Linked DNA regions of Homo sapiens. The protein of the gene in region 2 interacts with the protein of the main gene of each other region in a biochemical or structural test. Each region holds a gene or a part of one and is shown on either strand. Other genes may lie near its edges. The genes, in order: FOXL1, NFIC, TBXT and ELF2.

Region 1 (6,982 bases), on a different chromosome or scaffold from region 2:
GGCTGGCCTGAAGTTTCCCAGAGTCTTCCCACTGGCCTGGGTAGAACCCAGTCGTGGAAGCCTGGTTCAGCATGGATAGGAGAATGAATTTTCCAAAAGTCACCTCTATGCCTGTGAATTATCCAATTACTCTGCCGGCCTGAAATGTCCTTTCCAACACATTGACCAACAGGCCCTCTGGATTCAAAGTTTGTCATCATTTTTAGACAAGTCCTGGAAACTATTTTAAAAGCGATCTTAAAGACCTCCCTCCCAACCTATTTCCAATAGTGCGTGACTACTTGTGTCTTTATCACATGACATAAAATAAAAGTGACTTAGAGGTTCAGAAAATTGCATTTCAGGGCCTCGAAGATTACCCAGCTAGAGATGGCATAGAGGTCGGTTGCATTTCCCCGGAAGCTGCAAGCTGAACTTGGTTGTGAACATCTCAATGTTCTTAATTAGATTTTCGTTGCAGACCTCTTCTCCCCTCCCCAGACTGCCAGTCACCTCTTTAAGGTTTTGATTTAGTATCAGCCTCCAGGCCTGCCTGGCAGGGCTGGGAGGGAAGAGCGGGCGGCTGCAGGGGGTGCGGGGGCCAGGAGTGTCTGGGAGATTCCTGCCATCAAACCTCAGGTCCTCTGGGGCCCAGAGAGGCCCCTTCCAGCGGACACCAGCACGTCCCCTTATTCTTCCCCCGCATTCATCCCTCTCTCTCTCTGCATCTGCTTTTGGTTGTTTCACCCAACTTTTTAAATTAAATGTAGTCTTTCATTATCTGTTTCTGAAAAATATAGCGACCACCAAGCCTGGATCTTGAAAAAACATGGAAATCAAAACTCTGACATTGTCCAAGGCATATCCCCTTCCCCTCACACCCTTCCTCATGGTATCCCTTGAAATATTTTGATCCCTTAAAAACAAAAGCAAAAGGATAGGACGTCTGCTGTTGTGGCTTACATAGCTGCATGTGTATTGGCTAATGAGCTATCGTAATGCAAGAAGATGTTATATAGAGTGCACTTTCTTAATAAAAATTGTTAATACAAGCGTTTTCAAAGGTCAATGCTTAGAGTCAAGTATTTATGCAAAGAATGAAACATGTTCTTTTTACTACCCAGAAAGAAATTAAGAGAAAAAGTCTCTGTTTAAAATAAAAGTGTTATTGCTCTGGGTGGTTATCAGCTTCTATAGCTGAACATTGGTCATAAATCCTCATCGGGCCCTACATCTCTCAGAAAACCTGAAAACCCGGGGTCACCCCCGGCACCTCCACAACTTCAAGTCAGGAACAAACCCAGCTGTGACCACCCACCACCCAGATGGGCTCAAAACCAAGGCCTGAGCCACACGGCAACAGCGAAGCAGGCGACGGTCATACGGGGGTCCCCGGTCGAAAGGACCTCAACTGCACCTGTAAGGCCTGCCTTGGGTGGTCTGCGGGCCCTTGCATGCCCGGGACTCGCAGGACCTGCGGTGGGCGGCTGAAGACCACACTCCATTAGACAGGTCAAACGTCAAGGAATCTCCCGCGGTGGAGGTCCCTGCAGGGCCCACGTGCGGTGCCCACGACCCCGCGGGGATCTTTTAAGTCTCCGTAGCTGCTCCCAGTTGCTGGGAAAAGTTTGCTTCGGAGAAGGCAGGCGAGCGCGCCCACCTGCGCGCAATGGTTGGTAACACTTCCCTGAACCCACAGGCCGACCCAGGCAAAGATCATTTTAAAATCCTCCGCCGGTGGGAGCTGTGGCCTTTCGCTCAGCGGAGGCTCAGGCTGGGCCGGGAGAAGAACCGTGCCATTGTTTGCTTTACTGGAAGTGGAGTACCGTGTCGGGAACCTGCAGGGGGAAATAAGAGAGGAAGGGGATCCCGAGCTGGTAAAAGCCGCCCTGGACATGCGGGTCGAGCATCAGGGAAGCGTTGAAAGGCGGACGGAGGCTGGAGGAGGCGGCCAGGAGCGAGGCACCCAGACGGCCGCCGGGCCCAGGCTTGGCACCCCCTAGGAGTTCGTCCCCTGAAGGCGGCTTCTGGCCCTGCTTTCCCGCCAGGATGCTGTCTATGCTGAAGCTCTTGGACTTGTCGGAGCTCTTCGGAGAGCTGCGGGAGGCGGGGCGCAGAGGGGACCCCGGGCCGTCCCCTGTGCGCGCTGCCTGGCCGACCGCCACGGCCGCTGCGCCCTGGGCAGCGTCACCAGCGTCCTCGTTCGGGGACGCGGTCCCCGGCCAGTGGAGGGGCGCCGGCGGAGAGGGGCCGTCCAGGAGGGGCGAGGGGCCCGCGGGCGCTGCCTGCAGGCGGGAGATTGCGGGGCCCGAGCCCCCTGCCCCGCTCCCCGCCTCCGGCTGCGCCTCCGCGCTGCGCTGGTGCGTCTCGGCGCGGGGCCTCTTGGCCTCCGGGGCCCCGGGGCCCGGCTTGGGCTTCCTCTTCCGGCGCCGGTAGTTGCCGTTCTCAAACATGTCCAGGCAGCGGGGGTCCAGCGTCCAGTAGCTGCCCTTGCCCGGCCGCCCTTTCTCGCGGGGCACCTTGACGAAGCAGTCGTTGAGCGAGAGGTTGTGGCGGATGCTGTTCTGCCAGCCCTGCCGGTTGTCGTGGTAGAAGGGGAAGCGGTCCATGATGAACTGGTAGATGCCGTTGAGCGTGACCCTCTGCTCGGGCGCGTCCTGGATCGCCATGGCGATGAGCGCGATGTAGCTGTAGGGAGGCTTCTGCGGGGTCTCGGCCCGGCCCGAGGCAGCTAGAGCAGCCGCGGGGGCGAAGGCCAGAGGGAGGCCGGGTCTCTCGGGACCGTACAGATACAGCATGGGCGAGGCGGCCAGGGCAGGCAGCCGGGGATCGAAGAGGTGACTCATGGCAAGCGAGAGCCTGCGCTGCGCTCCCCGCAACGCAGGAGACCCGGGCGGCCTAGGCACTGCGCCCCGCGCCGCAAGGGCCCTCCCGGGGAGCCAGCCGTGCCTCTGCCTCTGGCTCTGCCGCTCTCCCCGGCCGCTCCGTGCTCTGTCCCTTCTTCATGGCTTTAAAAATGTTAAATAATTGTTGTAAGTTTGCTGTTATATGTTGACTTAGCCCTGGAAAATAAATTGTCTATGATAAACAGTCCTTGTGTTCTCAGCCCACCCACATTAATTAAAATTTCATTGCTGAAAAACTCCAAGCTTTTCCCTCCACGTGTCTTTTTGATACCAGCCAATCGGTTTTGGGGCTATTCCTTCATTTGTTTATAGAATTAGTCTGTTGATAAGTCCGCCCACCCAAGTTGAATCAAGCTGTGTTTATTTGGAAAAATTTCCGGGCACCCAATATATAAACGCACTGATCTGATGTTTGAAATATCACGTCCACCCCTTGACGCTGTAAGCACACACAGTCAGTGAGGCAGGATGTAGACTGCGGTGGCTCAGAGCAGGGTCTGCTGAGCCAGGAAGGAGAGGTGGAGATGGGGGTGGGTGTGCAGGGATGAGTTTTACGCTGGCCTGGGGGAGCCCCATAACGCCAGGGCCTCCCACAAAAGGTCTTTTCTTCTCCCAGGCTTAACCGGAGATATCGAGATGCCACAGTCTAGTAAAACACTTTCTGAGGTCCTAGGAACCTTTTAGATTGGGGCAGGGAGAGTATCTAAGAAGCCTGAGTGTCTGCTGAGAAGGGGATGCGGCCCTCCCTGGAAAAACAGGTGGCAGACCCAGTAGGAGGTGGCACTCTCTAGGGACCTGCTCTCCCACACCCTCCCTTCCAGGGCTCTCCGGAAATCGGAGGGAAAGTGGACTCTGGGAGCCCAGTCTCTCTGGAAGGGAAGGCCTAAGGCACTGGGGGCCTGGGGAAGAGCTCATGGTCCACAGCTCCATTGAGGAAGGTTTCAAAATAAACCCATTTAGAGAACCGGGGGCAAAAGTAAGGTCCTCCTGATGGGGCCAAGGTTGCAAGAGAGGAACACCATAAAAGGAGGCCGTGGCAGCTGGCGCGGGAGGCCTGGTATTTGTGAATGTGGGTCTCCAGCTTTATATTCTGGGCTTTCCTGTTTATAACAAGGAGGGGGTTATAACAACTTTACAAGTGCATGCAGCTGGCCCGTGATTACATTAGGCATTTGGGAAGCCTGCTTGCTCTCCCTGTATCCACCCACCCTGGGGTGTACGCGGCCCTCCACCCCCATCTCATTTTACATTTTCCCACATCACTGTTTGAATAAAAAATCCTGAATCATGCTGATTTCGAAGGGGGCCTCTCCTCCCCACTCCACCGGTTAGGGTAAGGGTAGAGGCACCTAGTGTGACTACTTCCTGTTTATGACCACCCCCTGAATATTAAAACACACACACACTGTCACACACACACCCACACACACACACACACATTCGGATAACTGGCGTCTCATTGAGCAAATCGTGTGAGCATGTCAAAGAGATGAGGGAAGGGGGAGGATGGCAGGTGGGTGTAGAAATGGCCCACTGCCAGTGGGCCAGGAAGGAGGGAGAGGCACCGAGGGCACTTACAGGGGTAGGGGGAGTGTCTGCCGCTGCCACACCCGGCTGAGGATGTGAGTGCCCAGGTAGCCTCTGAACACGGAAACGTGGCGGGCATCCTTTTTCAAAATGAGAAAATCAGAAATAACCCGTGTGTTTGGGGTTCCTGGGTATCCAGCCCATGGAATAAGTAGACCGCAGGGGAGCGGGTAAATTTAAAATACCAAAAAGGAAGTCGCAGGAAGGGTGGAAAAACCGGCCTGGGTACCGGCACTGCCTGCGGGAGCGACAGGCCAGTCCCTGGGACACCTCGGGCCTCCCTCCGCGGCCCTGCTCCTCTAACGTGGGTCCAGCGAGCAGCCCGGCCGCGCCCGCCTAGGTCCTGGGGGTGAACCTCTGGCCAGGAGGGGCGAGGCTTTGTCTTTTCGTTACCACTCGCTCTCACCCGCGTACCCCTTTCAAACTTGGGGTGAAGAAACCTCAATGCCAGCGCCTTTGCAACCCGCAGGCCCCACAGTCTCTGGGGTCACCCAACCTCTCCGGGGCCGCGCGCCCCCAGCAAGCTCAAGTTTGGATCCAGTTCCTTCTCCAGCCTCGGCGCTCGCTCCAACACACCCAGACCGAGAGATAAACCGGTGTCACTATGCAACCCTTTCCCCACCTTCCTATCCCACAGCCCCTCCTGGAGCTCCCCACGCGGCACCCGAAGTCCAGCACGCACATCCCTGCCTCTACCGAAACTCCCGCCGTCCCGGCGCGTCTTCTAAACTCTAAGGCAAATCCGAGCTTGAATTTGTACGGTGATAAATACTGCCCGATTTGGTAATGGGCGGGACGTGGGCGGAGACACGGGAGGCTGGTGGGCGGGGCACCGATAGTAAAGCAAAAAAAAAAAAAAAAAAAAGAGAGCGAGAAAGAGACAGAGAGAGATTAGGAGAGAGAGAGAAAAACCAAAAAACAAAAAACAAATGCCCACGCTCTAGTCGCGGTTTGGAGACGCACACCCAGCCCCGCGCGTTTGCAGAAGTGTGCAAAGTCTCCGGGAGGTTTCAGCTGTAGAACTCCGGCTTTGCGCCCCAGCCCCGCTCCAGAGCGGGTTTGAATCCCGGGCTCCCGGGTGATTGATGAGTTTGTAACCTGAGCCTAGGAGGGGCCTCTGTTAGAAGGAACCCCGCGCTGGGGCAATTTCCATATTTCCGGGGAGTGCAGGCTCAAGCCCTAGGAGTCCGAGAGCGGATGCGCCCTCGTGCGGAGGCTCTGTTGGCTGAGGCCAGAGCGAAGGGCCTGCGGGGGGCAGCCGAGCTGGGAGACGGCCGGGCGGGCCTCTAGAACGAGTGTCCTAGAGAGCCAGATGGGGACACTGAATGTTCCCTGTAGATTCATAAGCCTCGGATCCCAGAAAAGCGCGTCATCTGAGAAGTCACTTGGTGAGGGCTCACCTCCCAGCCTGCAAGAAAAGCCTGAGATCTCTGGCCTGCCCGGATGCTCCAGAAGGACTGGAGTTTCCAACTCTGAGGCTTGAGCAGAAACGGGGTTCAGCGTGGGATGAGGGTAGTCAGCCTCCTTCCCAGTCCTGGGACAAAGCGCATGTGCGTTCCTCAGGGAGGCAGATCAGAGACCAGGCATTGGTGATGAAAACGGCCTCAGATAAAAAGGCTGACGGGTGAGAGACAAGAGCTCCTCCCACTGCGCCCCAAGCCATCCACTCAACCTTCCTCACTGGAAAGCAAAAAGCAGAAACCTGAGTTAACAGTAATCTGTGTCGCTTTCCAAACATCTGCATCACTTTTCCAAACGTAAAGACAGTTACCGCATGTACGACTTGTGTGTGTGTTACATACGTATGCATGATTCAACCGCGTGTAGCATGTTTGAGAAGAGCTGCGGTGGAAAGATGAAGGGTTTAGCCCCTCACCTTACTGACAACCTAAAAACATTGGAGACAGATGATAATAATATGAATAACTAGAATGTACTGAGCCATTTCATCCTCACAGCAGCCCTAATAGAAACCTTTGTCGCTCCCATTTTGCAAACCAGGAAACTGAACAACGCCCTGTAAGTTAACCTGCCTCAGGTGTCCCATGAGGAAGTGCTCCAAAGACAGAAAATAATCTTACAATAGCACCAGGTGTGGACACTCAGGGCTCCATGGAAGTTCTCTTGCCAACTCTTACTAAATCTGTGAAAGGCAGGCGTGGCAGATTCACCCATTTGACAGATGATGAAACTGAGGCTCGGCACATAACACCCCAAGACCCTGAAAGTAGGAAATGGCCGCACAGGGACCACAGCCCACGTGAGTGTCCTCCAAAAGTGGGTGCTCTGGGGTCTGACATGCTCAGGTATCTGGAAGGACTCAGAGGCAGAGATTGTCTGGAGTAGACAGTGGGAGAGGGGCCCTCCAGAGAGGAGAGGGTGTGCAGCACCCCTGGAGCTGGGAGATTCAGGACATTATAAGAAAATCCCAGAGTCCTTGCTTATGTTCCACCAAAACCCAGAAGACCTCTTCCTCCTTCCCTCCCCGCCCACTTTGAAAAGAGTGGAAG
Region 2 (7,023 bases):
TCTGCAAAAATAAAAATTAGCCAGACATGGTGGTTTGCACCTGTAGTCCCAGCTACTCAGGAAGCTGACGTGGGAGAATCGCTTGAGTCTGGGAGTTCAGGGCCCAAGTGACCTAAGATCGTGCCACTGCACTCCAGTGAGACGCCTGTCTTTTTTATTTATTTATTTATTTATTTTGAGACGGAGTCTCGCTCTTGTTGCCCAGGCTGGAGTGCAATGGCGCGACCTTGGCTCACTGCAACCTCTGCCTCCCGGGTTCAAGTGATTCTCCTGCCTTAGCCTCCCGAGTAGCTGGGATTACAGGCGCCTGTCACCATACCTGGCTAATTTTTTGTGTTTTTAGTAGAGATGGGGTTTCGCCATGTTGGCCAGGCTGATCTCAAACTCCTGACCTCAGATGATCCACCCACCTCGGCCTCCCAAAGTGCTGGGATTACAGGCGTGAGCCACCACACCAGGCTGAGACCCCCATCTCTTAAAAAAAAAAGTAATAAAAATCACAGTAGCCCCAGCACTTTGGGAGGCCGAGGCAGGCGGATCACGAGGTCAGGACATTGAGACCATCCTGGCTAACACAGTGAACCCCCGTCTCTACTAAAAAAAAAAATACAAAAAATTAGTTGGGCATGGTGGCGGGTGCCTGTAGTCCCAGCTATTCAGGAGGCTGAGGCAGGAGAATGGCGTGAACCCGGGAGGTAGAGTTTGCAGTGAGCTGAGATCGCATCACTGCACTCTAGCCTGGGTGACAGAGCGAGACTCTGTCTCAAAAAAAAAAAAAAAAAAAAAAAATCCAATAGCAATATAAGTTGTAATGATAACAATCATCGCATCATTAATAACAATGTAGTCCTTTGAGAGCTGGGGGGAGGAAAACAGCTTTCTGTGCTAGGAAGGGATCACCCCTGTCCGAAATGCCCAGCCCAGCCTGGTCAAGGCAGGGAGATGGAAAGGCAGTTTTGCTTCTCTTTCTCTTCTTGTTCCTTGTATTTATTCCACCTTGAGGCTGAGAAACTAGGTCCCAGATGTTTTTAATTTGTTTTATTTTATTTTTTATTTTTTTAGAGACAGGGTCTTACTCTATCCCCCAGGCTGGAGTGCAGTGGCACAATCACAGCTCACTGCAGCCTCGACCTCTGAGGCTCAAGTGATCCTCCCACCTCAGCCTCCTAAGTAGCTAGGACTACAGGTGTGCGCCACAGCAACTATGCCCAACTAATTATTTTTGTAATTTTTAGTAGAGACGGGGTTTCGACATGTTGGTCAGGCTGCTCTCAAACACTTGGGCTCAAGTGATCTCTCCACCTCGGCCTCCCAAGTAGCTGGGACTACAGACGCGCACCACAAAAATTATGCCCAGCTAATTTTTGTAATTTTCGTAAAGATAGGGTTTTGCCTGCCGGCCACAGTGGCTCACACCTGTAATCCCAGCACTTTGGGAGGCAGAGGCAGGTGGACCACCTGAGGTCAGGAGTTCAAGACCAGCCTGGCCAACATGGTGAAACCCCATCTCTACTAAAAATACAAAAATTAGCTGGGCATGATAGTGTGTGGCTGTAATAGTGTGTGCCTGTAATCCCAGCTACTCGGGAGGCTGAGGCAGGAGAATCTCTTGAACCTGGGAGGCGGAGGTTGCAGTGAGCCGAGATTGTGCCACTGCACTCCAGCCTGGGTGACAAGAGTGAAACTCTGTCTCAAAAAAAAAAAAAAAAAAAAGGAGATGGGGTTTCGCCATGTTGCCCAGGCTGGGATTGAACTGGGCTCAAGTGATCCACCCACCTCAGCCTCCCAAAGTTCTGGGATTACAGGCGTTAGCCATAGTCCCCAGCTGAGATCCCAAATGCTATGCAGACTCAGTTTCCCTTGCTGGAAAATGGGAAGAATGGGAGGGGCCTCCCCACACCCAGACAGGGAGCTGGGGGCCTCCCACTGCCCCACATTTCTCTTCAAGGGGCTGCTGTTATTTTCGTGGGGAAGTCAGATGAGTGCAGGTTCCAGTCCACCTCTGTCCCCCATGGCCGGGTTCCCCCTCAAGGCCTCAGTTTCCTCATCTGTAGCATGGGTGTTGTGACTGCCCTCAGACACCAATTTGTCATGATTTGGGAGTAGGTTGAAGTCCCAGCTCTGGCCCAGTCTCAGCGCCTTCCCAGCCCTCGGATTTTCCATCTCCAGGGTGGGTCTGCAGGGAACGGGGTGGCCCCTCTCCCCAGTTCTGAACCTTTGTGGCTGAGCGTCTGCTTCTCTGGTCTGTTTCTGTATCAGCACAGTGGGTTCATGGAAAGGGGAAAGGAGGGAGAGGACTCCACCCGGGATTTCTCCTCCCTCTGATTAATCCTGGTGCACTTGAATCTCTTATCTTTTGATGCAGAAATCCCCCCACCCTTCCAGCAGCCCTCAACCTCCAGGCGGGCCTAGTGTCTGCCTGTGGATCTCAGCCAGGCCTGTCTGTACATATGCTCTGTAGGAACAAGCTTTCGTAGTCATTTTTTGTTTTTTTGTTTTTTGTTTTCCCAAGATGGAGTCTCGCCCTGTCACCCAGGCTGGAGTACAGTGGAGTGACCTTGGCTCACTGCAACCTCCACCTCCCAGGTTCAAGCAATTCTCCTGCCTCAGCCTCCCAAGTAGCTGGGATTACAGTCATGCGCCACCACGCCTGGCTAATTTTTGTATTTTTAGTAGAGACAGAGTTTCACCATGTTAGCCAGGCTGGTCTTGAACTCCTGACTTCTTGATCTGCCCGCCTCGGTCTCCCAAAGTGCTAGGATTACAGGCATGAACCACCGCGCCCAGCCGGGTTTTTTTTTTTTGAGACGGAGTCTCACTCTGTCGCCCAGGCTGGAATGTAGTGGCGAGCTCTCGGCTCACTGCAACCTCTGCCTCCTGGGTTCTCCTGCCTCAGCCTCCTGAGTAGCCGGGACTACAGGCGTGTGCCACCATGCCCAGCTAATTTTTGTATTTTTAGTAAAGATGGGGTTTCACTATGTTGGCCAGGCTGGTGTCAAGCTCTTGACCTCAAGCGATCCACCTGCCTCAGCCTCCCAAAGTGCTGGGATTACAGGCGTGAGCCACTGCGCCCAGCCTCATTTTTCATTTTTTTTTATTTCTTTCTTTTTTTTTTTTTTTTTTTTTTTGAGTCAGGAGTCAGGGGTCTCACTACGTTGTCACCCGGGCTGGAGATCAATGGCGCAACCTTGGCTCACTGCAGCCTTGACCTCCTGGGCTCAATTGATCTTCCCACCTCAGCCTCCCAAGTAGTTGGGACTGCAGGTATGCATCACCTAGCTAAGTTTTGATTTTGTAGAAACGGGGCCTCGCTATGTCATCCAGGCTGGTCTTGAACTCCTGGGCTCAAGCAGTCCACCCACTGTGGCCTCCCAAAGTGCTGGGATTACAGGTGTGAGCCACCATGCTTGGCCGCCGACCCTAGTTTTTTTTTGTTTTGTTTTGTTTTTTGAGATGGAGTCTTGCTCTGTCGCCCAGGCTGGAGTGCAGTGGCGCAATCTCGGCTCACTGCAAGCTCCGCCTCCCGGGTTCATGCCAATCTCCTGCCTCAGCCTCCTGAGTAGCTGGGACTACAGGCGCCCGACACCACGCCCGGCTAATTTTTTTGTTTTTTTTTCAGTAGAGACGGGGTTTCACTGTGTTAGCCAGGATGGTCTCAATCTCCTGACCTCGTGATCTGCCCGCCTTGGCCTCCCAAAGTGCTGGGATTACAAGCGTGAGCCACCGTGCCCAGCCTTGTTCTTTTTTTTTTTTTTTTTTTTTTTTTGAGACAGTGTTTCACTCTTGGCACCCAGGCTCCCAGGCTGGAGTGCAGTGGCACAATCTGAGCTCACTGCAACCTCTGCCTCCCAGGTTCAAGCGATTCTCCTGTCTCAGCCTCCTGAGTAGCTGGGATTACAGGTGTGCTCCAATATGCCTGGCTACATTTTTTTGTATTTTTAGTAGGGACGGGGTTTTGCCATGTTGGCCGGGCTGGTCTCAAGCTCCTAACCTCAGGTGATCCACCTGCTTCGGTCTCCCAAAGTGCTGGGATTACAGGTGTGAGCCACTGCGCCCAGGCTTTTTTTTTTTTTTTTTTTTTTTGTGACAGTCTTGCTCTGTCGCCCAGGCTGGAGTGCAGTGGCACCATCACAGCTCACTGCAGCATTAAACTCCTGGGCTCAAATGATCCTCCCACCCCAGCCTCCCAACTAGCTGGGACTACAGTTGCAAACCACCATACCTGGCTAATTTTTGTTTTTTTGATTTTGTTTGTTCATTTGTTTTGTAGCGATGGGGTTTTACCATATGGCTCAGACTGGTCTCAAACTTCTGGGCTCAAGCAGTCCTCCCTCCTCGGCCTCCCGAAGCGCTGGGATTACAAGTGTGAGCCATTACACCCAGCCCAACCCTAGCTGCAATAGGCAGAGAATAGGTCCCTGACATCTTTGTTCTCCCAACCTCAGTTTTACCCGTCTGTACAATGGGTTGTCCATGAGCCTCCACCTGGCCCCCTTAGCTTGCTCCATCTGCATGCTGGGGTTCAACATAGGTCCTCCACGGCTGGGCATGGTGGCTCACACCTGTCATCCCAGCACTTGGGGAGGCCGAGAGCCGAGGCGGGCGGATCAGAGGTCAGGAGATCGAGACCATCCTGGCCAACATGGTGAAACCCCATCTTTCCTAAAAATACAAAAATTAGCTGGGCGTGGTGGTGGGCATCTGTAATCCTAGCTACTCGGGAGGCTGAGGCAGGAGAATCGCTTGAACCCGGGAGGTGGAGGTTGCAGTGGGCCGAGATTGCGCCACTGCACTCCAGCCTTAGCGTTAAGAGCAAGACTCCGTCTCAAAAAAAAAAAAAAAAAAAATGATCCTCCACAAACTTCCGCCTTGATTTGTGCCTCTCACATAGTCCAAGTCTGTTTGCTCATCTGGGCGATGGGTTCTTGCAGGTCCCTGATAAACTTCTCCTGGGTCCCCCGGGCCTTTTGCGTGCCTCCGGCGGCGTGCACGGGTCCGCAGCGACCCCCTGCCCACCTCTGCCCAGCCCCTCCCACTCTGCGGGTCTGTTCAGGGCCCCTCCGACCTCAGCCTTCGGGGCCGGGCAGTGGGTCCGCCCTCTGCGTCCCTGGCGCTCCTGACCTCTCGCCTCTCCGGCCTGCAGGATGAGTTCCACCCGTTCATCGAGGCCCTGCTGCCTCACGTCCGCGCCTTCGCCTACACCTGGTTCAACCTGCAGGCGCGGAAGCGCAAGTACTTCAAGAAGCACGAGAAGCGGATGTCGAAGGACGAGGAGCGTGCGGTCAAGGACGAGCTGCTGGGCGAGAAGCCCGAGGTCAAGCAGAAGTGGGCGTCGCGGCTGCTGGCCAAGCTGCGCAAGGACATCCGGCCCGAGTGCCGCGAGGACTTCGTGCTGAGCATCACCGGCAAGAAGGCGCCGGGCTGCGTGCTCTCCAACCCCGACCAGAAGGGCAAGATGCGGCGCATCGACTGTCTCCGGCAGGCGGACAAGGTGTGGCGGCTGGACCTGGTCATGGTCATCCTGTTCAAGGGCATCCCGCTGGAGAGCACCGACGGCGAGCGCCTGGTCAAGGCTGCGCAGTGCGGTCACCCGGTCCTGTGCGTGCAGCCGCACCACATTGGCGTGGCCGTCAAGGAGCTGGACCTCTACCTGGCCTACTTCGTGCGTGAGCGAGGTGAGGTGTGGTGGCCTGAGCGGAGCGGCCAGCGGGGAGGGTGTCTGATGGTGGTGACACGGGGCCAGGAGGGCCTGAGGGAGGAGGCCAGTGCGTGTGGGTATGATGTGGTGGTCTGAGAGGGGAAGTGGGCCTTGGAGAGTGCCCAATGGGGGCGACACGGGGCACGGAGCATCTGAGGGAGGAGGCTGGTGGGTATAGATGTGATGTGGTGGTCTGAGAGGGGAGGCGAGTCTAGGAGAATATGTAAAGTAGGTGATATGGCACAAGGAGAGTCTGAGAGAGGAGGCCAGTGCATATAGATGTGATGTGGTGGTCCAGGCAGGGCAGCAGGCCTGGGAGAGCATCTGATGGGGGTGACATGGTGCAAGGAGGGTCTGAGGGAGGAGGCTGGTGCGTGTAGATGTGATGTGGTGGTCCAAGCGGGGAGGCGGGCCTGGGAGAGCGTCTGACGCCGGGTGACACGGGGCAAGGAGGGTCTGAGGGAAGAAGCCAGCATGTGTAGATGTGATGTGGTGGTCTGAGGGGGGAGGCAGGCCTAGGAGAGCGTCTAATGCAAGTGATATGGTGCAAGGAGCGTCTGAGGGAGGAGGCCAGTGCATGCAGGGCCCAGGGTGGCTGCTGATGGGATGTGGAGGTCAGATGGAGGAGGCAGGCCTAGCAGAGGTCTCAAGTGAGAGATGGTACAAGGAGGTTTTTTTGACAGAGGAGGCAGGTGGGCTGTGGCGCTCCAATGGTAGAGGCAGGATCTCACCCTCACGTCTGAGGGAGGAGGCAGGAAGGCCCTTGAGGTCTCAGGGGGATGAGAATGTCCTAGATGGTCTTGGGCACAACGGACGGCCTTGCTGGGAGCAGGGGTGAGGAGAGGAGAGGGACAGGCCATCCCAGCCCTCCGAGGAGAGCCAAGAGAGTCCTGGCACCGCTTTCTGTGAATGCTTGTTGGTTGATTGACTCTCAGACCATGCCAGCAGAGGCCTGATGAGCCTGGCCCTGCCAGAGGGGTGTTTGCCGGTGGTCAAATGCCTGATGTTGAGACCAGCTAGCTCTGTGGGGTTGAGGAAATCCAAGGCGGCTTCCCAGAGGAGGAGGTGCAGCTGAGCTCAGCTCTGCAGGATGGCCAGGCCACAGTGAACAAGGAGATGCCCCAGGGGTCCTGGCAGGAGCGTGGAGATGAGAGGCCTGATGCCTGTGCCTCTGGTCCCGGTGCTAAGAGCAGGGTTGGTCCTGCAGCTTCTTGGCTGCGTGGCCCTCTTGGACTTCAGTTTCTCTTGCCTGCCAAATGGTGGAGATGATCAGTCTGTAGCTGGATGGGGCTATGGGAGGTTCCAGAAGATCATGCGTGTAGCCA
Region 3 (6,995 bases), on a different chromosome or scaffold from region 2:
AACTTGAATTCCAAAGAGATAGGAGCTGAAGCACTAGAGTTTTAAGGAGAAAGGTTTGGGATTGTCACATTCCCAAACATTCAACTGGGCAGGTTGGTTTGTTGTTAATCTGTGAACTCCTGTCACTAAAACAACCACACACTGTCATGTGTGACGAAGCCCACTGACTCCAAAAAAATAGCTTGGATGGGATCAGGTTTTGAGACGCAGCCTGAGGCTGACGGTAGTCCCTGCGTCCACCCCACATGGCCACAGCTTCCCTGCAGATCAGGGAGCACATCACGAAGCCTTCTCCCTAGAGCAGCAGGGAGGGGCCGGCTGTGCACAGGGTGGGATCCTTGTCCTGAGAGGAAGACTTTAAAAAACCAAGTCTCTGTTCTTTCCCACAAAACCACAACCACCTCAAACAACCCAATGGGCTTTAAAAATTTTTCAATGGTAAAGAGTCTAAAGAATTACGTTACACACCTTTTAAAGCAATAACAAAAGCCATTGGGTTTCTTTTAATGGGAGAGACAAATAAACCAATTGGTGGCAGAATTATTGGCCATGAAACATGGCTGTCATCTCTAATGTAGAACTTGTGACTGTTTGCGATCAGTCCGCTTAGTCAGTGTGGGAGAAGGAGCTCATGAGAAGAACAAAATGAAAAAAAGACGAGGAACACCCCAAAATATGAACATTGCTTAGTGCTTGAGGTTAGCATTTATATACATAGAGAGAGATAAACATACAGCCAGCCCTCCATAGCCACAGGTTCCATATCCGTGGTTGGTTGAATTGATAGAAAACATTCCAAACTCCCTCTCCCCAATAATGAAAGAATAAAAATTATACAAATAAAAAGCAATACAGTATAACTACTATTTGCATAGTGTTACATTGTATTAGGTATTATAAGTAATCCAGAAGTGATTTATAGTTCATGGAGGAAGTCCATAGGTTATATGCAAATACCATGCCAAGGGACTAGGGCATCCCTGGATTCTGCCATCTTTGTAGGTCCTGGAACCAATCCCCCACAGATACTGTGGGTGACTGTTTTACATATATATGAAGACAGATACATATATAATATTTCTACAAGGAGTACATATATAATCAGAAAAGAAATTCATTTGTTTTTCTTGCAGAAAGAGAGGGACTAGAGTGTGGGGTAAGAGTCACGCGAGGCTGTCCTCCACCCCTCCTTGAGCCTGTTACAGCTTCATTGTTGCCTGCTTCTAAAGATAAATGGCTTTGCTTTTTCAGAAGGGATTGGGCCCAGGAAAACTGCCTCTCTGGGAGTCGAGTGGGGTGTGTGTGTGTGTTTTCTTATAAAATGTTTCAAGCATGTTTTCGGTGGGACAGTTGCATCCTGAGGCCCAGCCATAAGGCTTTGTCTTGTTTTTCTCTGAATGGCTGGGCTTGCCAAGGAGAGATAGACCCTGGGAGCGAAACAGCTGGCGGTGCCTCAGCCCCTCTTTCCTCCCAAGGAAGCGCATTGTTATTAACTGGGAATTCTTTATAGCCGGGCTGGAGGAAGTTTTGGCTGTAAACTGTCATGCACTGCAGCCTTCGCTGAAAAGGCGGAGGGAGTGGGCCTGGTCCTGGGAACCGAGGAACAAAGATCAGAAAATCAGCCACAGAAAGGGGAGGAAAAATAAACGTTAGAAAGTGAAGACAGGTGACACTACACAAGTGCTGGCCAAAGTCGGTGACTTCCAACCTCTACCTCCTCCGACTTGGGTGGTTCAATTCCTGGGTCGTACTCTTCAATGCTTCAGACATTCTCTCTGGAGAGTAGAAATTTTATTACGCGTGTTAGAAACGGAATATTCTTTCCTGCTGAAGTTGTATTCTTATTTGGCCGTGCCCCTCCTGTTCGGAACAGTTTTAGAGCGATCTGTTAAACCCTCCAGTCTTCTTTGGCGCTTCCCGACTGTGGGAAAAGCGGCCGCGACGCCGTCCGAGCGCAGGGGAGGGATCCAGCCTTCGGGACTCCTTTGCCCTGAAGCCGCAGGAGAGGTTTCGCTCCCGTGCCTAGGGTTCCGAGGCCCTCAATTGCCTGGGACCCACCCTCGTTCCTCCTTCACCTCCCCTCCACTTTTCCCTTTTATCTTATCCTCGGGAGGCCTTGGGCCAAAGCGATGACCTCTTAGACATTTTAATACCCGGAGTAAGGAGAGTAACACGCACCACGCTCTCCCCCAAAGCCCAGGACCCGATGAGCCAGTGAAGGCGTGTCAGGAGGGTCCGGCGTCAGGAGCAAATGAGGTCCTTTTGGTGCCTCTTTCTAGAAGGAAACTTCCCCACCTCGGGTCAGCCCCCTGGGAATATCCATGCATCCCAGACATCAAAAGACACTGAGAAATGCGGACAGGGACTAGACGCTCCGGCTTCCTGACTCGTCGGTGTAAGTTGGAGAAGGGAGAGAAGGAGCCCTGTCCCCCACGGGCGGCAGGCACCCTTCCCCGGGACTGGCTCCTGGCAGCCCTCCGCATACCGCGAGGCGGGTCGATCCCTCGAGTCCCGGGCGGGGATCCCTCCTTCGGCTTCCCCAGCAATTCCCGACCCCGGAGCGAGCCCGGCTGGGCGAGGGGCGAGGGGCAGGGGGCAGGGGGCAGGGGAGACTTAGCGCGGGGCGCAGATACCATGTCCGCGGGAAAGCCCCCTTGCTAGGGCGCAAGACTCCTCTGAACTCGCTGCCCCACCCGATGCGCAGGCTTTCTCTAGAGGGGTTGGGGCTGGGGTGCCCGCTCAGGAGACCGGGAAACAGAGGCTGCTACCCGAGGCAGGCCCTCGTCCAGCGAATGGGCGAGGTGTGCAGAAGCGCAAAGCCAGGCCTTGGAAGGGGGAGCTTCTGCCTCCTTCCCCCTTCCTGGGCTCCCGTTTTAGGAGGAATGTTACTGTTTAAAGAGACCCCACTGAACTATTTCCTGCTCATTGTCACCTCTCCTTCGCTCTCCTCGCGTAAGTTCTCACCGAAAGGTAATAAAACAACCGCTGCCGACACCGCTTGGCGCTGGGCCGGGCGGGGAAAGCGCCCCGAGTCCCACTAGTCCGGACCACCCCGCCAGCCCCGACCTTCTCCCACCTTCCGTGAAAGCAATGACACAGCAGAAACCACGCACACGCCTGGCACACTCGATGCGCGCGCTGACCTCGGCAACAAGTCCTGTTTTTATAAGAGAGCGAGGAGGACACTTCTCAGAAGGGGTTGTTTTGCTTTTGCTTATTTCCGTCCATTTCCCTCTCTGCGCGCGGACCTTCCTTTTCCAGATGGTGAGAGCCGCGGGGACACCCGACGCCGGGGCAGGCTGATCCACGATCCTGGGTGTGCGTAACGCCGCCTGGGGCTCCGTGGGCGAGGGACGTGTGGGGACAGGTGCACCGGAAACTGCCAGACTGGAGAGTTGAGGCATCGGAGGCGCGAGAACAGCACTACTACTGCGGCGAGACGAGCGCGGCGCATCCCAAAGCCCGGCCAAATGCGCTCGTCCCTGGGAGGGGAGGGAGGCGCGCCTGGAGCGGGGACAGGTGAGGCCGCGCGAACGTTCCAGCCTGGCGCGGCTGCGGGATCCGGGCGCGCTGGGAAAGCGAGGAGGACCCCGCGCGGGAATCAGGGAGCATCGCAGGCTGCCGGGCAGCCCCTCGCGGAAGTGCGGGCTGGGGCGGGCTGGGGCGGGCTGGGGCAGGCCGGGGCGTCCAGCTTACCTTCCTCCGGGGCTTGCCCCGCCGCTTTGATGGAGGTGCAAACATTTGGAGAAGGGCGGGGGTGTAGGGGCTGGGCCGGGGCTCGCAGGGCTGGGGCCCCGGATTTACATGAAACAGGCGTGCGGGAGCCCATTGTTGGCCCCCGGCCTCCCAGACCCGCCCGGCTGGGTCTGATATGGCCGCTCTCGGCCAATGGGAGGCTGCCCGGCACTTCAAAGCGTGCGCGGCCCAATCCGCCGAGCACCCCAGCGCTGCCGCCGCGGCTCTATTTATGGGGAGGGCACTGAATTTCGGTCCCCAGAGACCTACACTAGTAGAGCCTTGGGGAGTTCAAGTGGAATAACTTCTCCCCACCCCTCTGCCCCCGTCCCCTCCCCCCAAGTCTTGGTCCGCGCCCTCCTCCCGGGTCTGTGCCGGGACCCGGGACCCGGGAGCCGTCGCAGGTCTCGGTCCAAGGGGCCCCTTTTCTCGGAAGGGCGGCGGCCAAGAGCAGGGAAGGTGGATCTCAGGTAGCGAGTCTGGGCTTCGGGGACGGCGGGGAGGGGAGCCGGACGGGAGGATGAGCTCCCCTGGCACCGAGAGCGCGGGAAAGAGCCTGCAGTACCGAGTGGACCACCTGCTGAGCGCCGTGGAGAATGAGCTGCAGGCGGGCAGCGAGAAGGGCGACCCCACAGAGCGCGAACTGCGCGTGGGCCTGGAGGAGAGCGAGCTGTGGCTGCGCTTCAAGGAGCTCACCAATGAGATGATCGTGACCAAGAACGGCAGGTGGGTGCGCGTCCGGAGCCCGCGCGCGCCGCGCTCTCCAGCGCCTGGGCAGCCTGGGGGACCTGGCAAGTTCCCGGAGGTCGAACCCTTTTTCTCCTGGAGGAGGGCTTTGTGTTTGTTCCCGCTCTGGTTAACTCCCTCGAGTGCATTTCTACAAGCCCCTCTTCTGGGGCTTTCTCCGCGGAAGCTTGGGGAGGAGGAACGCGCACTTCGGTGTCCCGACCTCGGAGGCATCCCGGGACCCGCGAGGCGCGCCCTGGTCCCCGCCTGTCCCCGCGGGATGTGGCCTCCTGCACTGAAACCCTTCGCCAGGTCCTCTCCTCCCCTCCCTCCCGAGGCCGTGGAGATGGTGAGGAGGCCACCTGGACCTGGCAGGGCTCGGGGAAGGGGGAGCTTGGGAGTCACCCTCGGACGTTCCCCAGGGGGCTCCTCTGTGCCCCGAAATAACTGAGGCCTCTGTGCCCAGCTTCTGCCTCCGGCCTACCTGGTCAGTGTCGGGGTCCTCCTGCGCCCGCCCCGTGTTTTCCAGGAGGATGTTTCCGGTGCTGAAGGTGAACGTGTCTGGCCTGGACCCCAACGCCATGTACTCCTTCCTGCTGGACTTCGTGGCGGCGGACAACCACCGCTGGAAGTACGTGAACGGGGAATGGGTGCCGGGGGGCAAGCCGGAGCCGCAGGCGCCCAGCTGCGTCTACATCCACCCCGACTCGCCCAACTTCGGGGCCCACTGGATGAAGGCTCCCGTCTCCTTCAGCAAAGTCAAGCTCACCAACAAGCTCAACGGAGGGGGCCAGGTAGGTGTGAGGAGCCCGCCAGGTCTGGGACCAGCGAGGAGGGGGCCGCGCTGCGCCTTCTGCACGGGGGTTGTGGGAAGGGACGCTGCTTGAACGGGAGGCGACGTCTGCCCTGGAGAAACTGCCACAGCCTTCTCTAATAAGGCCTTTAGCGCTGTTTATACTAAGCTGATAACATCCACGCCTGGCGAACGGGGAGCGGGAGCACTCCCCTTTGAAGGACTGGAGCTTTTGGGGAACTTCCGTTGTCTAGCCCTAAACTCTCCTGGGGGTGGAAAAGATATCAGCCTTGATGGCAAAGTCGCATTTAAATTTAAACATGCGCCACAGTACTTACTGCGTGGAGTCGGAACAAACTTGTAAAGTCGTGCTTTTCTAAAGAACATTCTTTAGTCGGGGATTGTTCCTGGAAGACCCCAGGTTAGGCAAGTTGCAAACAAGCTCAGTCTTTTAAAAATGACCATAGCCTTCCTGAAAGCCTTAGTACTTTATTCCACCAGGTGAAAGGATTTTGTGATGAGCATTCATTGCTTTTAATGGTGTGTAGCATCTCACATCCCTTTTCCAAACAAGCTGTGGGAATAGCACATATAAACCGCGGAGAAGCCTCCCCTGGTGGAACCCCACTTCCCTCAACAGCAGAGACACTTTCTTGGGATCCAGAGGACTTTCTGCATCCTGGAGAAATGGATGTTTTGCTGTTTTAACGCAGGCCTTTCAGTGCCACCAATCCTGTATCTGTCTCCCTCAGATCATGCTGAACTCCTTGCATAAGTATGAGCCTCGAATCCACATAGTGAGAGTTGGGGGTCCACAGCGCATGATCACCAGCCACTGCTTCCCTGAGACCCAGTTCATAGCGGTGACTGCTTATCAGAACGAGGAGGTGAGAAGGACAGAGGCGGATCGCTTTCCCGGTGTGCTGCGGTGTGGTGTGCTGCTCCGTGGAGATTCTGGAGGAGCGGGGAGACGCGCTAACCCGCACTGAGAGGAAGGCTTCCTGCCCTTTCAAATAATATTCCGGAACTTGAAATGGAAGCACAGGAGAGAACTGTTTAAATTAAGTCCCCATTCAAACATTTTCCCCTTGAATTCTCCATACAAGTGTTTAAAACTAGAAACAACTTCTCAATGCTCAAAATGAAAAGATCCAAAAAGCATTCAGGTTAAATGGTGTGAGAATTTCTTGAGAACAAGACTTGAGTGAGAGAGGGGCATGTCCTTCCTTGGAAATCTTCCCCAAAGGGTGGGGGGGCAACCCCTCAAATCTCTGCAGTGTGAAGACTCAACTAGATACAAGCTACTGCATAGGTGCCTGTAAATCTATGCCTAAGCCCAACCCCAAAGTACTGCAAATTCGACATTAGTTGGATACCTTGTTGGTGTTGACGTTGACCGAAAACTAGAACTTCCAGGTCTCTATTTCCTAAGCAGCCCCAGACTGTGTTTTCAGCCATTTCTGATTTATACACATGGAACATTGTTAGTAGTAGGTTAAATTTATTGTGAATCCCACTCAGAACATTGACATTGAAAATTTTTCATAAGCATGCTACTCTGTACAATTACTCAGCTATTTTCAGTTCCAAATAGAAAACTGTATGTGGAAAGAAGTCTGATTATATTTGAATATTTAAAAGTGGTACTGGCATTTCTCAATTTCTTGGTGCCAAATTAAATCCCCTGGCTAATAGGGAATATACTAGTAAATGCAATTTCTTGTTTTTCAGATCACAGCTC
Region 4 (7,465 bases), on a different chromosome or scaffold from region 2:
TTCTGCCTCAGCCTCCCCAGTAGCTGGGACTACATATCCATACCACCACACCTGGCTAACTTTATTTTATTTTCTTTGTAGAGATGGGGTCTCAAACTATGTGATCCTCCTGCCCATGCTGGTCTTGAACTTCTGGGCTCAATGATCCTCCCACCTTGGCCTCTCAAAGTGCTGGGATTACAGATGTAGCCACAGCACCCAGCCAAGGATGAAATAATTTTAAAAAAAATCACTTTCCTATATATTGAAGAAAACAAAGGGAGAAATAACACAGAGAAAAGAAGTATAAAAGCATTATACCTAATATGCATATAATCATTTATATTTAGTATATAAATATATGTATATGTATATACATGCACAGAAAAAGGCCTAGAAGCTTAAAGGCTAAATTTTCATTTATGGTTATCTGTGGAAAAGTAGAGGTAGGGGATGGCTGCGTAAGTGTGAAGGGTAAGTGAGAAGTGGGAAGGGAAATGGAGAGGGAAGGTGAACTTGGGTTTTAAAAAGTTTATTTTGAATTATTTGAAAATTGATGATGAGAATGTATTAATGAATCATTGTATAATTAAAAAATAAACTATAATAAAAATAATTAAATAAAATATAAAAATAATTAAAAAATAAACTATATAACATAAAAAACTATATAACATAAAAAACAGCAAAAGCAATCCAGTTACAACAGAGATTTCCTATTCCATGATCATTAGCTTGCTACTAGGACTACTGGTCACACTAGACTTTTCCTTCTGACCCCTGTTCTCTAGAATGCTTTACTGTAAACCAGGGGTGTCCAATCTTTTGGCTTTCCAGGGCCACACTGGAAGAATTATTATCTTGGGCCACACATTAAATACACTAACACTAATGATAGCTGATGAGCTTAAAAAAAAAATCGCAAAAAAGTATTTTAAGAAAGTTTACAAATTTGTGTTGGGCTGCATTCAAAGCGGTCCAGGGCCGCATGCAGCCTGCAGGCCCTGGGTTGGACAAGCTTGCTGTAAAATTTCTGGGTTCCTTACTCCGCTGGCCTCCATAAGGGATGTGTTTAAGAACCATAGCCAAAGAGCTGCCTGAGACACACCAAGTTAGGCACCTTGCAGGCCAATATGAAGGAAGCAGATTGCTCTTTCTGCTGTTGTTTCAGTCAGCTATCACAACACTAATTCCAGGAACCAACTACTCCAAAACACTATTACTCCAAAACGCTATTACTCCAAAACACGGCTTGAAACAACAATCCTTTATTCTCTAGGTTGCTGACCCCAAGCTGGGACTGGCTTCAGACCTGCTTCATATTTCTTTGACCAGCAAACTAGCCAGGTATGTTCTTCACATTGTGAAAAACAAGAGTGCCAGAGAGGGAAGGAGAAACATGAAATACCTCTTGAGGCCAGGCTCAGAACTGTCACACTCACTTCTGCCTATCTTCCTTTGACCAAAAGCAAATGGACTGATCTAAGCTCAACATGAACAGGATGGAGAAACATCCTATCTCTACTGAGAGGAACTACAAAGCCGTATTTCAAATGGCATGCATGCATGGAGTAGTGAAAAATTGGGAACAATAATGTTATCTACCACTGTTATCCACCTGGGACTTTCCAGCTTACTGCCAATCGGCAGTGGGAGAGAATTTCTTCTCAACGTGGCTGACAACAGAAATTATGTGACTTGGCAGGTGATATCTGTCCCTAACAACAGGAATCAGTCTTTGTCTTTGCCGGCTCCTTAGTATGCTATGTTATGTTATGAAGATGCAATATTATTGATTATTAATTAATTCCTTACAAATATCAAATTGGGCAATGGTTCCCATAAGTGATAAGTTATTTACAAGAAGTGAGATAAAAAGACTCCCTTAGAAAGGGTGCTCTGTTTGCAGAATCCTGTTTATTGTGTATTAAAGATTTGAATGTTACCAAATTGTTACAAATTCTTTAGTTCAAAAGGGTGTCAACAGTCCCATGATTTAGAACTCAGGAATCCAGAAAACTTTGTCAAGAGTTAAGAGGATCTTTGATTAACAGTCACGGTCTCCAGGTTTCCTCTGTGTTCAAGAGTAAAAATTTCTTAAATAAGAATAAGAGCCCTCGGACTTGCTTTTTTTTGAGACGGAGTTTCGCTCTCGTTGCCCAGGCTAGAGTGCAATGGTGCGATCTGGGCTCACTGCAACCTCCGCCTCTCGGGTTCAAGCGATTCTCCTGCCTCAGCCTCCCGAGTAGCTGGAATTACAGGCACACACCACCACACCCGGCTAATTTTTTGTATTTTTAGTAGAGACGGGGTTTCACCGTGTTAGCCAGGATGGTCTTGAACTTCTGACCTCAGGTGATCCGCCCGCCTCGGCCTTCTAGAGTGCTGGGATTACAGGAGTGAGCCACCGCGCCCGGCCTTTTTTTTTTTTTTTTTTTTTTTTTGAGAAGGAGTCTTGCTCTGTCGCCCAGGCTGGAGTGTAGTGTTGCGATCTCGGCTCACTGCAACCTCTACCTCCGGGGTTCAAGCGATTCTCCTGCCTCCCGAGGAGCTGGGACTACAGGCGTGTGCCACCACGCCCAGCTAATTTTTGTATTTTTAGTGGAGACGGGGTTTCACCATGTTAGGCAGGCTGGTCTCGAACTCCTGACCTCAGGCAATCCACCCTCCAGGGCCTCCCAAAGTGCTGGGATTACAGGCGTGAGCCACTGCGCCCGGCCCAGAGTTGCTTTTTAAGAAAGGAAGAGAAGACTCACCCCCAAGAAAATAGAGGCAACAGCAGTATTAACAAAAGAAAGAGATCATTACATTCTTAGGCTCTTCAGGGATTTAAATCTGGAGCCTCCTGCAGCTTTCTGACATTTGAGCCTTACTCTAGGGTGATTTCCACGGTTCCCACGTCCCTTTCAAGAGAACAGCTATCACTTATATTCCTCAGTGTTTCTTCTTTGCTCCAGACTGGTTGTGAAGCCGTAAAAAGGGTAACGCTGGAGCCCAGAAATCAGCTGGTGAATACCGCGCCAGGTGCCAGGTCCATCGCGGCGAGGCTGCAGGAGCCCTGGAGGGGAGCAAAAGGAGCCCCGCGCGCACCGGACAGGCTGTGCTCTTTGTTAAAGAAACAAATACAGAAAACGCCGCGGCGGGGAATGGTGGTGGTGAAGAAATAGACTGAGGCGTTTGTATGCATTAACTGTGCCTACAAAGCCCATTAAAGAGACGCTCCTACACAGGGCAACCCACGGCACCGTGTCATTGGCTTTTGTGCACTTGAAGGCGCGTGAGAGTGCCCCGCTCGAAGGCTCCCCTTTGTGTGAAAGTGTGGAAACCAGAAGCGTGCAGCCACTGCTGGGTTTTCGTTTTCGAATTCGCAGGCACTTGGGCCAAAATACTCCCACACCAGAACACTCTCTCATTCTCGCACCAACAACACTCAGACTTGAGTTACTTCTCCGTTGCGGACCGCGCAAGGAGCGACAATGGCTAGGTGCGAGTGCCCGCAGCTCCCCGGGCAGCTCCAAGGGGCCGCCCGCCGCGCTCCGCAGCTGCGCGCTGGGCCCAGCCACCCGACAGCCAGCAAACGCCGGCACCAACCGCCGCGCGGCCGGGCTGTTGGGCGGGTGGTAATTTCTGGGAATGGGGCGGGGTCGCGGGTGTACTACGCCCGGCTTTTGCTAGCGGGGAGGAGGAGCTGGCGGCGCCGAGGGGCGCGAGGCTGGCGGGGCGGTGCGCCACGTGCGTCACCGGCCGGGGCGGGGCCGGCGTCGCGCTCCTGCCCGAACCCCCACCTTTCACTAAGCCAAGGCTGAGGAGTGGGAACTGGAAAGACCGGGCTAGGAGTTTTTGCAAAACCTCGCCCCCCTGTAACTGTCAGACTGCCCGACTGTGGGGCCGTCTCCGGAGAAGGGCGAGAGTCCTGAGTTGGGGATGCGGTGACGGCGGGGCCTGCGGGGGCCCTGAGTGGCGAGGGTGTGTGCGTGCGGTCCCGGCCGGCGGGGGAAAGCCGGCGGGCGCTGCAGGTGCACGCGCGGCCCCATCGGCCTCACACGCCTGCCCCGTGCGGCAGAGCCCCCTGCACCAATCCGGGGCTGGAGTGGAGAGCGAGATCGGGGAGCCCTGGGCAAGGAGCCGGACAAGTGACGAGCGTCTTTACCTGGGAAGGCGGGTTTGGGAGAAGTTGGGCGAGGAGAAGAGGGCGGGATTCAAGACAGCAAAAGAAGCAGGTTCGGCGGGCTGGTGGGGGCCCGAGGGCGGCGGGGCCCCGCGGGGTATAAATAGCCGGCCCGCGTTTGACAGGCGCTGCGGTGACTGGCGGTGCCGCCCCCGCCCCCCCGCCGCGTGGGGAGGGGAGGAGCACTCTGAGCTGGCGGGGAGGGGGAGGCGGACTCCAGTGTCCTGGTGGAGGCGGCAGGAGGCCGAGGGGGAGGAGCCGAGGCGGGGGGTGGAGGGAGGGGGCCGGGAGCGGAGCGGGGCGGGGGCAACCATTGCTCCCAGCGCCAAGCTCTGTGTCGCCGCCGTCGCCTAGGCGGTTGGGGGTCGGTGGGGCGGCGCGGGCGGGGGTCGCTGCGCGGGGCGGCGAGCCTCTGTTTTGTCTCCTTCTCTCCCTGTGGAGCGGCTCGGGCTGCTGGGGAGGCCCCGGCTCCCTCCGGACGCTCGGCCAACGGCGGCGGCTAGTCCGCGGCCCTGCTGAGAGGGAAAAGGACGCCGCGGTCTTCCCAGGCGTCGCGGAGAGCAGGTAAGAGCGCGGGCAGCCGAGGCTGGTGAGAGGGAGCGCGAAGGGCGCGGCGATAAAGCCTGGCTGTCCCGACTGCCGCCGCCTCCCTCCGCGCCCCCGCCCCGCGCTTGTGTTGTTTGCTTCGGGGTTTGCGGAGGGGTTTTCCGGCGGCTGCGGCGGTGACACCGGCCGGGGGCTGGGGGAAGGGGGCTGAGTGTCCCCAGGCAACGGTCGCGGAGCGGGACTTGGAGAAAGGGGAAGGCGCGCTGCGCGCCTGCCCGCGGGGAGCGCGGGGCGCGGGGCAGGGCTGAGGGAAGAGGTTACAGACCCCGGCGGGGGGGATGGGCCGAGCGCAGCTGGTCTCTCCGTGTTTACATCTCTGCGCGAGTCACCTCTGCCGAGAAGCGGACTGAACTGACCCGCCTCATCCCGCGGGGAGGCCAGGGCGGGGGTCCGGCTCCGGAGGAAGCGCGTCCTGGGAGGGTTTGTGTAGGGCGGGAGTCTGCGGCCGGCGCCGGGGCTGGGCGGCGAGCTCGGGGCGGGACCTGGGAGGCTCCGGCCGCTCTGGGTGGCGGGCAGGCGGGGGGGGGCGCTGGACACCAGTTTCCTTCCCTGTCGTGCCTTATCGCCGCCGCTTACCTTTCCTTCCCGGCGCTGCTAGCTTGCACGACAGGTTGTACTCGGCAGTTCTTTTATTCTCGCTCTCCACGCCGGCACCGTGCTGCCATCTCCCCCTATTCCCCGGGAGGTAGGGAGGCTTTGCTCGGATCGGAATCTGTTTCTTAAGCAAAACAAAAACGGGCTCGTAACAGGCACGTCCAGTGACCGCCTTCTGGATCCTCGCGAAGCTGGTCCTCAGGGACCGCGCGACGGGATGGTCTAGGGGCGCGGAAGGAGGACAGGGAGGGCTCTGCCAGGGCTGGATGCTGACTCTACCCCAGGAGCTTTGTGATCAGGGTAGCCGAGCCCTCTCTTCTGCTCCATTTGGGCATTTTTATTCCATGTCCATAAAGGACTCAAAAAATATTCCGTGACACCAAGAATAATCCAGATCGCACAGTTTCTAATCTTTTTCCCTCTGCCAGCATCCTGGATGGACTCTTTCTAGGAGGCAGATTCGCTGCAGAATAGCCTTTAAGTTTAGTACTTCATTAAATGAGGAAGAGGGGGACACGTCATTGTAAAACTGTTAAAAATTCCCCCCTTTCTTGTGTTCATGAACATTTACTTCAGCTTAATGGTTTAAATTGTAATCCGGTGATGAGAGAATAGTAATCGTGTGTTTGATAATCAGATTTGTTTTCCTTTTTATCTGTGATTCTCTATCCTGAAGTAAATTATGCACTTTCTTTGGTGCCAGAATCACGGAAGGATGTATGCTTTACTAAGAAAGGATTGGATATTTGTGTTTCAGAGTTTCTTCAAAAGGTAGAATGACTTATATAGGACTGGAAACCATTAAATTACATTTAAGGGAATTTAGGAATAATAAAACTTTTTATAGAGCATTACAGTTTACAGAGTACATTCATGTAAATATTATTGAGACGATATCTAGTAGTTAAACACATGAAATAGAAAATTGGAATATCCTGGGCATTTGAAGTTTGAATATTTATGTCAACCTATTTTTAAGTTTAGTGATTTAACTCATTGGATTTATCATTGCCTTTCATTTCAGACATAAATACTCATTTACAAAATAGTCAGCTTGAGTATGGTTGGAAAGAATTTGTAACTTTGGGATTTTTCTGTCCTAAGTAAACAGATTGGTACCTGTGGCCTGTAGGGTCTGCTAATGTTAGTGGCTTTACCTGCTCATGTTGTATACCATTTTTGGAGGAGTAACAGCTTCACGATGATATAATTCACATACTAGTCAGTTCAGTTTAAAGTGTACAGTTTGGTGGGTTTATTAATTTTTTAAAAAATTACTCCATTTTGCAGGTGAACAATTCAGTGGTTTTTACTACAATTGTCCATCGGTATCTGTTGGGGATTTGTTCTAGGGCCTTCCTCAGACACCAGAATCTATGGATGCTCAGGTCCCTAAAATAAAATGGCATAGTTGCTGGGTGCAGTGGCTTGTGCCTGTAATCCCAGTTATTCAGGAGGCTGAGGTGGGAGGATCTCTTGAGGCCAGAGTTTGGACACCAACCTGGGTGACAGAGCAAAATCCTGTCTCCTAGGAAAAATGAATAAAACTGACATAGTATTTGCATATAAACTCTGCATATTCTCTTGTATGCTTTAAATCATCTCCACATCACTCATACTACCTAATACAATGTGGATGCTATGTAAATAGTTGTTATACTGTGTATTGTTTAGGGAATAATGACCAGAAAAAAGTCTGTACATGTTCATTTACAGACATAATTTTTTTTTGAGTAGTTTCTGTACCTCATTGATTGAATCCATGTATTCAGAACTCATGGATATGGAGGGCCGACTGTATATTCAGAGTTGTGCAGCCATCACTATACTCAATTTTACAGCATTTTAATCATCCCCCAAAAGAGCCCCATATCCATTAACAGTCGCTTTTCATTTTCCCTCAGCACTCCCAGTCCTATGCAACCACTGATCGACTTTCTATCATTATAGATTAGACTGTTGTGGACATTTTATGTAAATGAAACCATAAATGCGGTCTTTTGTGACTGGCTTCTTTCGTTTAGCATAATGCTTTCAAAGTATATCCATGTTGTAATATGTGTCAGTACTTCATTTCTTTTTTTTTTAAAATCTATTTTCTTTCTTTCTTTTTTTTTT

The links.
Region 1: the proteins of NFIC (region 2) and FOXL1 form a complex in vitro, tested with the Homo sapiens proteins (one study listed by BioGRID).
Region 3: the proteins of NFIC (region 2) and TBXT form a complex in vitro, tested with the Homo sapiens proteins (one study listed by BioGRID).
Region 4: the proteins of NFIC (region 2) and ELF2 form a complex in vitro, tested with the Homo sapiens proteins (one study listed by BioGRID).

Annotation. Positions count from the first base shown.
Region 1 is NC_000016.10:86,574,567-86,581,548, reverse strand, and holds the start of FOXL1 (forkhead box protein L1), read right to left. Parts: upstream 3,001-6,982; 5' UTR 2,826-3,000; coding exon 1,788-2,825; 3' UTR 1-1,787. UniProt on the Homo sapiens protein: Transcription factor required for proper proliferation and differentiation in the gastrointestinal epithelium. Target gene of the hedgehog (Hh) signaling pathway via GLI2 and GLI3 transcription factors.
Region 2 is NC_000019.10:3,376,569-3,383,591, forward strand, and holds part of NFIC (nuclear factor 1 C-type), read left to right. Parts: intron 1-5,143; coding exon 5,144-5,675; intron 5,676-7,023.
Region 3 is NC_000006.12:166,164,852-166,171,846, reverse strand, and holds the start of TBXT (T-box transcription factor T), read left to right. Parts: upstream 1-3,995; 5' UTR 3,996-4,255; coding exon 4,256-4,461; intron 4,462-4,990; coding exon 4,991-5,255; intron 5,256-6,006; coding exon 6,007-6,141; intron 6,142-6,985; coding exon 6,986-6,995. UniProt on the Homo sapiens protein: Involved in the transcriptional regulation of genes required for mesoderm formation and differentiation. Binds to a palindromic T site 5'-TTCACACCTAGGTGTGAA-3' DNA sequence and activates gene transcription when bound to such a site.
Region 4 is NC_000004.12:139,174,213-139,181,677, reverse strand, and holds the start of ELF2 (ETS-related transcription factor Elf-2), read left to right. Parts: upstream 1-4,459; 5' UTR 4,460-4,711; intron 4,712-5,111; exon of another isoform or gene 5,112-5,173; intron 5,174-5,329; exon of another isoform or gene 5,330-5,523; intron 5,524-7,465. UniProt on the Homo sapiens protein: Isoform 1 transcriptionally activates the LYN and BLK promoters and acts synergistically with RUNX1 to transactivate the BLK promoter. Isoform 2 may function in repression of RUNX1-mediated transactivation.